Linked DNA regions of Homo sapiens: region 2 is linked to region 1. The links come from fine-mapping of genetic effects on gene expression. A gene starts in region 1. The other region holds a variant in brackets. All regions are shown on one strand. Distances are from middle to middle.

Region 1 (5,370 bases):
GAAATTTATTTTCTCACAGTTCTGGACGCTAGAAGTCCAAGATCAAGGAATTGGCAGAGTTGGTTTCATTCTAAGGCCTTGCTCCTGGGCTTGTAGATAGCCATCTTCTCCCTGTGTCTTCACGTGCTCTTCTTCTGTGTGACTGTGTCCTTTTTAAACATTTATTGTGGGCCAGGTGCGGGGGCTCACGCCTGTAATCCCAACACTTTGGGAGGCAGAGGTGGGCAGATCATGAAGTCAGGAGTTCCAGACCAGCCTGACCAACATGGTGAAACCCCGTCTCTACTAAAAATACAAAAATTAGCCAGGTGTGGTGGTGCGCAGCTGTAATCCCAGCTACTCAGGAGGCTGAGGCAGGAGAATCACTTGAACCTGGGAGGTGAAGGTTGCAGTGAGCCAAGATGGCACCACCACACTCCAGCCTGGGTGACAGAGGGAAAGTGTCTCAAAAAAAAAAAAAAGTATTGTGGTCAGGCATGGTGGCTCACGCCTATAACCCCAATACTTCGGGAGGCTCTGAGGCAGGTGGATCAACTGAGGTCAGAAGTTCAAGACCAGCCTGACCAACATGGTGAAACCCCGTCTCTACTAAATACAAAAACTTAGCCAGGCGTGGTGGCATACACCTGTCATCCCAGCTACTTGGGAGGCTGAGGCAGGAGAATTGCTTGAACCCGGGAGGTAGAAGTCTCAGTGAGCTGAGATTGTGCCACTGCACTCCAGCCTATGCAACAAGAGCAAAACTCCGTCTCAAAAATAATTTTTAAAAATAAAAATTTATTGTTTATTTATTTTTTGAGACAAGGTCTTGCTCTGGTGCTCAGGCTGGAGTGCAGTGGCACAATCACGGCTCACTGAAACCTCCACCTCCAGGAGTTCAAGACCAGCCTGGGCAACATGGTGAAACCCATCTCTACAAAAACTAGACAGCTGTGGTCTCAGCTACCCAGGAGACTGAGGTGGGAGGGTCACTTGAGCCTAGGAGGTAGAGGTTGCAGTGAGCTGTGACTGCACCACTGCACTCCAGCCTAGGTGACAGAGTGAGACCCTGTCTCAAAAAAAAGGGGGGGGGGATACCAGTCTTAACTGGATGAGGTACAATGTGACTTCATTTTACCTTAATCACCCTTTAAAGACCCTGTCTCCAAAGACAGTCACCTTATGAGATACTGAGTGTTAGGACTTAAACATATGCGTTTGGTTGCGGGGGGACATGATTCAGTCATATCAAGGTGGGGAATGGAGTGGTGTAACTGCTGATGGGTGTGCGTCTCCTTTTTGGGGTGGTTAAAATGTTCTGGAATTAGTGGCAATTAATGTGCATCTCTGTGAATATACTAAAAACCACTGAATTGCCCAGCCAGAAAGGATAAACTTTTGCCCTGGGGCAGGAAGAAGGCTGGCATGCAGAGAGAGGAGAAAGGGGGGCTGGATGAGCTGGCCTGCTAGCGGGGGCCCCAATACTACATAAGACCTTGCCCTTCTCCACAGTATCTGGTGTTAAATCTCATTATGAGGACCCTTTCAGCCCGGGGTTGGGATTGGAAGTGAGACATTGAAACTTCAAGGGCTGGGTTCTGGCCCGGGTGGGGATTTGCCATGGAGCAAAATAGCCTCTTGCAGCACATGCGGGGTTTCCTGTGCCGGGCACTGTCCTAAGTCCTTCTCAACTCTTTCGTCATTGAGTTCTCATAGCAGTCCAGTGAGCCAGGTACCATTCCTCTCTTCAGTCCACGGTGCCAGGTCACTTGGCTAGGGTCCCACTGAGAGTTCGAAGGAAGCCAGGCTAGAGCTCAGGCCTCTCACCAGCTGGAGGTCTTTCCCAGACTCTCTAAGGTGAGAGTTGGTGAATGGTGTCAGCCTGGGCCTGGATGAGTGACCCACGGTGCTCAGTGAATTTCAGGAACAGAGCCAGGGGATGCTGCGGTCAGGGGTGTCTTGATGGGGAAGAAGCAGGGCTGGGCGCTCACCTGGCTTCCCCGGACCTGCAGGTCCAGCCTCGCTCTCCTTCCCCCGAGCACCTCTAGCCCAAGGCCTGCCCACTTGCTGGAGCTGGCCCCTTGGCAAGGCTGCTGGGAGGGCCCGTGCTGCCAGGGCGGTCAGGGTCAGTGTCAGAGGTGCCTAAGGGACGCCCAAGGGGGTGCCCAGGTGGCAAGGTGCCTGTATGCTCAGGGAAGCCACGTCCCAGCTCGCGGGTGGGTGCAGCAGAGGCCCACGTGACCTTGCTGCTGACATTCCTCAGAGGCCATGTGGCCCCAACTGGCAGCGACAGCTGCAGACGGGCTGAACCAGCTTTGTTCCCAGGGTGGCGCCTGCTCTCCATCCAGGCCCCATTCCGGCTCCCACCCGACGCTGCTTTTGTTCCCACGTTTCGGGGGGCAGCTGGCACTGTGATTCCTGCCCCATGAGTGCCTAGAGGCACGGAGCCACCAGGGATCACCCCACGTGGGACACAGGGCTTGGGGAGGATGGGGCAGGACCAGACCAAGCAGCAGATCGAGAAGGGGCTCCAGCTGTACCAGTCCAACCAGACAGAGAAGGCATTGCAGGTGTGGACAAAGGTGCTGGAGAAGAGCTCGGACCTCATGGGGCGCTTCCGCGTGCTGGGCTGCCTGGTCACAGCCCACTCGGAGATGGGCCGCTACAAGGAGATGCTGAAGGTGGGTGTACCCGGCCTGGGGGCGTTCGAGGGTCAGGCTGGGGCCGGATGTCTCCCAGGCTCCCCAGTCCCCTCTCGGCCTCCTCGGGCTCCCCTGTGTCCCACAGGCTGGCAGCCAGGGCCCGAGGCTCTGAATTTATATCTAAGGCCCTGGGTCTTAGATACTGAGTCTTGGCATCAGATTCAGGCCTGTGGCCTTGAACTGTGGTGCCCGAGTCTCTGAGACTGAGGTTCTCCAGCCTCAGGGTCGAGGGTTTGTGGGTCTCAAGCCCATTGTAGGTTTCAGCCTTCCTGTCTGGTGTTCTGTGTCTGAGCCTGGCGGGGTGTGGGCTCCAGGGTTGCGGCTGGGGGTGGGTGGGTGGTGGAGACTCCAGATCTGAGGCTTGGGATAGAAGGTGAAGGCTGCAAGCCTGAGCTTGGGAGGTGAGGCTGGGGTGTAGGGAAGGTAGCTGAGGCTGGCGGGTAGAAGCTCTGGGTCTGAAAAGAAGCTTTGGGATCTGCTGCTTTGGGTGTGAGGCTGGGGGGTGGGTGTGGGGCCTCCAGGTCTGAGCCTGCAGTGCAGGCTGGGGTCCAAGGCTCAGAGTCCAGGCTGAGCACCACCTGCCCACCGTCGCTGTGTGCAGTTCGCTGTGGTCCAGATCGACACGGCCCGGGAGCTGGAGGATGCCGACTTCCTCCTGGAGAGCTACCTGAACCTGGCACGCAGCAACGAGAAGCTGTGCGAGTTTCACAAGACCATCTCCTACTGCAAGACCTGCCTTGGGCTGCCTGGTACCAGGGCAGGTGCCCAGCTCGGAGGCCAGGTCAGCCTGAGCATGGGCAATGCCTTCCTGGGCCTCAGCGTCTTCCAGAAGGCCCTGGAGAGCTTCGAGAAGGCCCTGCGCTATGCCCACAACAATGATGACGCCATGCTCGAGTGCCGCGTGTGCTGCAGCCTGGGCAGCTTCTATGCCCAGGTCAAGGTGGGCCTGCACCCCAGGGGGACAGCAGTGGAGGGTTTTGGGGCTCCCCTCTCATGAGGCACACACCCTGTGGCACTACCTCATTCAGCCCTCCTTTTAGGGAGGGCTGAGGAGAGTGAGAATCAGAGAGCAAAAAGGCTTATCCAGGAAGGTAACAACTTGGCCAGGAAGCCAGCAAGGGCAGAGCCAGGATTCAAACCTTGATCTGTGTGACTTCCTGGAGGAATAATGGGAGGCTCCTCTGTGAGGACAGGCCAGCGGCCTGCACTGCCATGTTTGCTGTGTGGTCTTGGGCAAGTCACCTATCCTCTCTGAACCTTGGGAGAGATCTGTAAAATGAAGGAGAATAGGACTCACCTTACAGTGGGGTTGTATGGAGTCAGTCATCAAATATTTATTGACCAGCTACTGTATCCCAAGACTGTTGACCCAGGGTGTAGCAGTGAGAAAAACAGCCAAGTCCCCGTCCTCACGAGGGTTGCATTCTAGTTGGAGAAGAAAGACGATCAACACAGTCAGGAAGTCAAGTGGTTAGGAGAAAGCGAAGCGGGGCAAAGGGCTGGCAGCACTGGGCGTGGGGGTGTCATAATTTCAAATATAGTGGTCGGAGGGCCTCGCAGAGGTGATGTTTGATGGCTTGAAGAAGAGAGGGTGTGCCATGCAAAAATCTGGTGAGAGAGCATTCTAGGCAAAAATGGGCGAGCCCCTAAAGCCAAGCTGGACCCTGGGGGAGCATCCTGGAATGTTTCCTGGAATGTTCCAGGAAGGACAGAGGCCAGCATGGCTGCCAGGCGTGTCTCAGGTGTGTGCGGAGGTAGGGAGGTGAGAGGAGGAGGGCCAACTGTGAAGGAACTGATAGGATCAGCCACAGCAGGTTCTGATCCTGGGTATTTTTTGGCGGGGGCAGGGGCGGAGTTTTGCTCTTGTCACCCAGGCTGGAGTGCAGTGGTGCCATCTCGGCTCACTGCAACCTCCGCCTCCTGGGTTCAAGCGATTCTCCTGCCCCAGCCTCCCAAGTAGCTGGGACTACAGGCGTATACCACCACGCCCGGCTAATTTTTGTGTTTTTAGTAGAAATGGGGTTTCACCATGTTGGCCAGGCTGGTCTTGAACTCCTGACCTCAGGGATCCGCCCGTCTTGGCCTCCCAAAGTGCTGGGATTACAGGCGTGAGCCACCGCACCCGGCCAACCCTGGGTATTTTTGTTCCCTTTCCCCTCAGGTATCTGTGCTGTGCTTGGTCCATGGGGGATTTAATGCCTGGCCCCAGTAGATGCTTAATAAATCTTGGAGTTAGTGAGTGGATAAATGCTGATGGATCCAAGGTGGGATGGGAGGAAACGAGTCACCAAGGATGACAGCCAGGACTTTGTTTTTAGGAAGCAGATGTAAGGGGGAGCCATTCAGTGAGATGAGATAGGACTGGGGCAGGACAGGGGTTTTTAAAAACCTTTTTAATTCTGAAGAAAAGTAAGCTAGGCCTGGTGGCTCACACTTGTAATCCCAGCACTTTGAGAAGCTGAGGGGTGAGGATCGCTCAAGACCAGGAGTTCCAGACCAGCGTCTACAAACAGTTTTTTTTTTTTTTTAATTTGGCAAGGCTCATGCCTATAATCTGAGCACTTTGAGAGGCCAAGCAGAAGGATTGCTTGAGCCCAGGAGTTTGAGAGCAGCTTGAGTCGCATAGCAAGACCCCATCTGCACCAAACTTTAAAAATGAACCAGACATGGTGGCTCACACCTATTGTTT
Region 2 (5,365 bases), 130 kb before region 1:
GAAAGAGCTCAGGCAGTAAGACCATCTTACTGTCTGCGCCCTCAAAATATCCTGCGACTGAGGCCAGCCCCGACACCCAGTCTGGCCCAGCCCAGCCTCCAAGGAGCCCCTCAGCTGCCAAAAGCATCAGCTGCAAAGTCTTCCAACTGCATGGTGGGCTGGCTGGGCGGCCCCACAGACAGGCAGAGCCAAGCACTCCCCTCTCAGGCACTCTGCCGCAGGCTGGACAGACAGATCAGCTGGGCTAGGGCGTATTGTCCCCTGGCAGACAGACAAATCTGCAGCTCCTGAGTGGTTTTTGCCCCAGCCCTGGGACCTCTTGTTTCCTAGCAACATTCTTAATTCAGAGCGGGCACGGTGGCTCATGCCTGTAATCCCAGCACTTTAGGAGGGCAAGACAGGAGGATGGCTTGAGCCCAGGAGTTCAAGACCAGCCTGGGCAACATGGTGAGCCCTCATCTCTACAAATAAATTAGCTGGGTATGGTGGTACACACCTGTGGTCCTAGCTACTCAGGAGGCTGAGGTGGGAGGATCACCTGAGCCCAGGCAGTCTAGACTGCAGTGAACCACGATCACACTGCTGTACTCACTCTAGCCTAGGTGACAGACCAAGACCCTGTCTCAAAAAACCCCCACCAGCCTGGCGCGGTGGCTCACGCCTGTAATCCCAGCACTCTGGGAGGCCGAGGCGGGCAGATCACCTGAGGTCGGGAGTTTGAGACCAGCCTGACCAACATGGAGAAACCCCATCTCTACTAAAAATACAAAATTGGCCGGGCGTGGTGGCGCAAGCCTGTAATCCCAGCTACTCGGGAGGCTGAGGCAGAGTTGCTTGAACCCGGGAGGCGGCGGTCACAGTGAACCAAGATCATGCCATTGCACTCCAGCCTGTGCAACAATAGCAAAACTCCATCTCAAAAAAAAAAAAAAAAGAAGAAGAAAAAAAGAACCCCACCATTCTCAGCTCAGGCCAGAAACCAGGGAGATTCCTGTAGCCCAAGAGTGATTGGCTACCATGCCACACCCATCCTGAACCCTGTGGACTGTGAGAACTTTCAGTTACAGCTCCAGAATCCCTCTCAGAAATACATCCATGCCTGCAGGCCACCACGTCTGCAACTACACTCTTTAGTCCCATTAAAATAGACCTCCGGCTGAGTGTGGTGGCTCACGCCTATAATCCCAGCACTTTGGGAGGCCAGTGTGGATCATTTGAGGCCAGGAGTTCGAGACCAGCCTGGGCAACATGGTGAAATCCCATCTCTACAAAAACTATAAAAACTAGCTGGGCGTGGTGGCGTGCATCTGTAATCCCAGCTTCTTGGGAGGCTGAGGGGGGAGAACCGCTTGGGCCTGGGAGGTGGAGGTTGCAGCGAGCTGCGACAGCACCACTGCACTCCAGCCTGGGTGACAGAGCGAGACTCCATCTCAAAAAAACATAAAAGAGCTGGTCACAGTGGCTCACGCCTATAATTCCAGCACTTTGGGAGGCCGAAGCAGACAGATCACCTGAGGTCAGGAGTTCAAGAACAGCCTGACCAATATGGAGAAACCCCGTCTTTACTAAAAATACAAAATTAGCCAGGTGTGGTGGCACACACCTGTAATCCCAGCTACTCGGGAGGCTGAGGCAAGAGAATTACTTGAACCCAGGAGGCGGAGGTTGTGGTGAGCCGAGATCACGCCATTGTACTCCAGCCTCGGCAACAAGAGCGAAACACTGTCTCAAAAAAAAAAAAAAAAACCCATCAAAGACTCCCTGGTTTAGTAGTGCCTCTCTAAGAGAGCAGGGAAACACCCCTGCCTGCCTGTGTCCCCCCCAAAGCATCACTTCTCCACATTACAAGCACACACAAAGTGGTAAGTCTAAGTAGGAATTTATTTACACGGACACTCAATCATAGATAAGGCGCTGTCTAGGATCCACATGCGTTCCCTGGAGCTACTTGGCATCAGGCTTCTTGTCTCCGGCTTCAAGCTTGAGACTCTCCGGGGGTTGGCGATAGACTGGGAAAGCCTCCCAGGGGCTGTTCAGGTCAAATTTGCGGAACTCTTGGGCCAACTCCACCGGCTCTGCCACCACCCGCTTCACTTCATCATCATAACGTAACTGCAGGAGCAAAAGGCAGGCTTGAGCACTAAGGAAGTCCTTATTATAGCTACACAGGAGCCTACTTTTCACAAGGCTATTGGTGACTTCCCCAGCCCATTCCTCTCGGTTACTGACTCCTGTCCCAGCCTCTGTCAGTAAGTCTCCATCCATACCTGTGTTACCCGTCAGATCACATCCCAACCAGCTAGAGTGTGTGATTCCAAAATGTAGGATACCTCTCATGCCCTGCCAGCACCAGTCAGATTCCCCTGCTCACCACTCCCACATCAGGAGCTCCGAACTGACTGCTCACCCACCCACACACTCTTACAAGGTAATGGTAAGCATTTGCCCAGGATTAGGGAGTAGTCGGTGGCTGAAAAGAGTAAACCTAAACTGGCAGATACACAACCTCAGGCCCGGTGCCCTTGGCATATTCACAGTCCAGATCTAAAGCAGTACATTTGACACAGCTTTTCTTGTTACTTGGGGATCAAATGGATAAGGTAAGGATCATCAGGTGCTAGAGTGAAGAGGCAAACCAGGTGAGGCAGATAGCAGGAGTGGGGTGAAAGGGAGAAGCGAGGGAGATAGCCCTGCCCAGAAGTAGCCCAAGAGGGAAATAGGAGCATGCAAAGCACTAACACAGCAGGAGTGACTGGGAACTAAAAGAGCAGGGCTGGAGCACCACATCTCTGCATTTCTAAACAGTTACTTTGCTATAAAATTCACGAGTGATAATATTACACACTATCTTCCTGCAAATAACCTGCAGCACCACTGAAATTCTTTATTCACGTTACTGGTCCCACCTCAGAGGTAATTTTTGAGGGCTAAGCATCTGGTGTCTTCCCCGTCACTGCCTTCCCAGAGAGTCAGGGCAGGGTAAAATAATCCTCTACTTTCAGGTTTTAGGGACAGACTGTGTCGTCAAGGCTGCCTTGATCATTAAAATGATCATTACAATAATGGATAACACTGGCCAGGTGTGGTGGCTCACACCTGTAATCCCAGCACTTTTGAGAAGCTGAGGCGGGCAGATGACTTGAGCCCAGGAATTCGAGACCAGTTTGGGCAACATGGAGAAACCCCGTCTCTACAAAAAATACAAAAATTTGCTGGGCATGTTGGTGCATGCCTGTAGTCCCAGCTACTCGGAGGGCTGAGAGGTGGGAGGATTACTTGAGCCTGGGCGGTCAAGACTGCAGTGAGCCATGATCGCACCACTGCACTCCATCCTAGGT[G/A]ACAAGAGTGAGACCCTGACACACACACACACACACAGCATCAATTGAGCCTTTACAATACAGCAGGCTTCATACATCATTTATTTATTTAGAGACAGGGTCTCACTCTGTTGCCCAGGCTGGAGAGCAGTGGCGTGATCTCGGCTCACTGCAACCTCCGCCTTCTAGGCTCAAGCGATCCTCCCACCTCAGCCTCTTGAGCAGCCAGGACCACAGGAATGCACCACCATGCCCCGTTAATTTTTCTATTTTTTTGTAGAGAAGAGGTTTCACCATGTTGCCTAGGCTGTTCTCGAACTCCTGGACTCAAGCACTCCTCCTGTCTTGGCTTCCCAAAGTGCTGGGATTACAGGCGTGAGCCTACACATACATTATTTAATGCCAGCCACAAATCTATTAAAGTGCTATTATTATTGCCATTTTAAGATGAGAAAACTGAGTTACAGTCAAACCAAGTAACTTGCCCCAGGTTACAAAAATGAAGCTAGGATCTGAATCCAGGGCCCATGCTCTTAAACCACCACAATCCACAGACCGTATTTCTTGCCATTCCCAGGGATCCCCTGGGTTCTCTGCAAGTCCCTCCCTGAGGCTGCTGTCCCAGTTCCAAGGCTCCTACCTCAACATAGCCAGATAGAGGAAAGTCTTTCCGGAAAGGATGTCCCTCGAAGCCATAATCTGTCAGGATCCTTCTTAGATCAGGGTGGTTAGCAAAGAAGACTCCAAACATGTCCCAGATCTAGGAAAGAGACCACCTCAAACAGCCAATCCATCAAGACTAACAACAGGGGGAAGGGGCTACACTGCATCCCGTAGTCTGAACCAGTTCTGCAACTGTGGCCCAGAGGCAGGTCCACCATATCCGGTAACTCACCTCCCTTTCATACCAGTTGGCTGCCTTGAACACAGAGACAGCAGACTCAATGGGCGTCAGCTCATCTGTGTAGGTCTTCACACGGATCCGTGAGTTGAAGCGCAGAGACAACAGGTTGTAGACAATCTAGGGAGAACAGAAGGATCTGGAGGGCTGAGATGGGAGTCCCTGATTGGGAGAGTTCTGCCCTGTGACCCTGCCTTCTATTCTGAACCTCAAAACCTCAAGATTCTCCTATGCTTACAACTACTTCCAAAGGCCCAGGCCACAGCTGTAGCTTAGCATGTCAGCATGCCTGTGTTTGCTCATGCTATTCACTTTGTCAGGAATATTTCCCTGGTCCATCTCACAAGGCTACCTGGTCTCCTACTCATATTTTAGATTCAGCACAAACATTCTCTCTTTTCAAAGAAGCCTCCCAGACAGGGCCAAGTGCCCCTCCTGCTTTCTTAAAGCATCCCTCTAATATCCTTTGTATTATATGTTACTACAGTAAGCTGTTTAGGTGTCTTTCTCCTTCACTAGAGTGTAGGGGACTCCTGGAGGACAAATACTTCATGTTATTTCTCTCTCCATCCCAGAGTCTGGCAAACAGTAGATAATCAGTAAAATATTAATAGCTAAATGTATTGAAAACACTGTGTGCAAGCAATTTACTTGAACTATCTCATTGGATCCTTATAACCATTCTATAAGATAAGGACAGCTTTATATTTATTTTCCCGGTAAGAAAATGAAAGCTCAGAAAGATTAAACAAGGGCCGGGCATGGTGGCTCATGCCTGTAATCCCAGCACTTTGGGAGGCCAAGGCAGGCAGATCACGAGGTCAGGAAATTGAGACCATCCTGGCCAACATGGTGAAACCCAGTCTTCACTAAAAAAATACAAAAAATTAGCCGGGCGTGGTGGCATGCACCTGTAGTCCCAGCTACTCAAGGGGCTGAGGCAGGGGAATCGCTTGAACCTGGGAGACGGAGGTTGCAGTGAGCCAAGATCATGCCACTGCACTCCAGCCTGGCGACAGAGCAAGATTCCGTCTAAAAAAAAAAAAAATTAAACAAAATATTTGAGTTATCTGAGGTCCCACAGCCATTTAGTGGCAGAACCAAGATCCAACTTCAGATCTACTTGACTCTGAAGTTCCAGTTTAAC

What was found. PIP is the estimated chance that this variant, and not a neighbour inherited with it, causes the effect. A credible set is the group of variants that fine-mapping cannot tell apart.
Region 2: its variant is the best candidate, but not a certain one, in a credible set for the expression of RAPSN in whole blood (TOPMed, PIP 0.60).

The regions. Positions count from the first base shown.
Region 1 is chr11:47,446,063-47,451,432 of GRCh38, reverse strand. RAPSN (receptor associated protein of the synapse) reads left to right here and starts at 2,297. Exons shown (of 8, transcript NM_005055.5): 1 at 2,297-2,660; 2 at 3,283-3,621. The coding sequence starts at 2,469. It overlaps LOC124902673 (a long non-coding RNA gene), which reads right to left. Exons shown (of 2, transcript XR_007062669.1): 2 at 3,996-4,106.
Region 2 is chr11:47,581,061-47,586,425 of GRCh38, reverse strand. It overlaps NDUFS3 (NADH:ubiquinone oxidoreductase core subunit S3), which reads right to left. Exons shown (of 7, transcript NM_004551.3): 5 at 4,213-4,338; 6 at 3,958-4,077; 7 at 1,864-2,112. The coding sequence ends at 1,945. Among named protein-coding and RNA genes, the nearest start is that of FAM180B, 2.9 kb to the left of the region's middle. The variant G/A (reference allele first, on the strand shown) is at 3,339.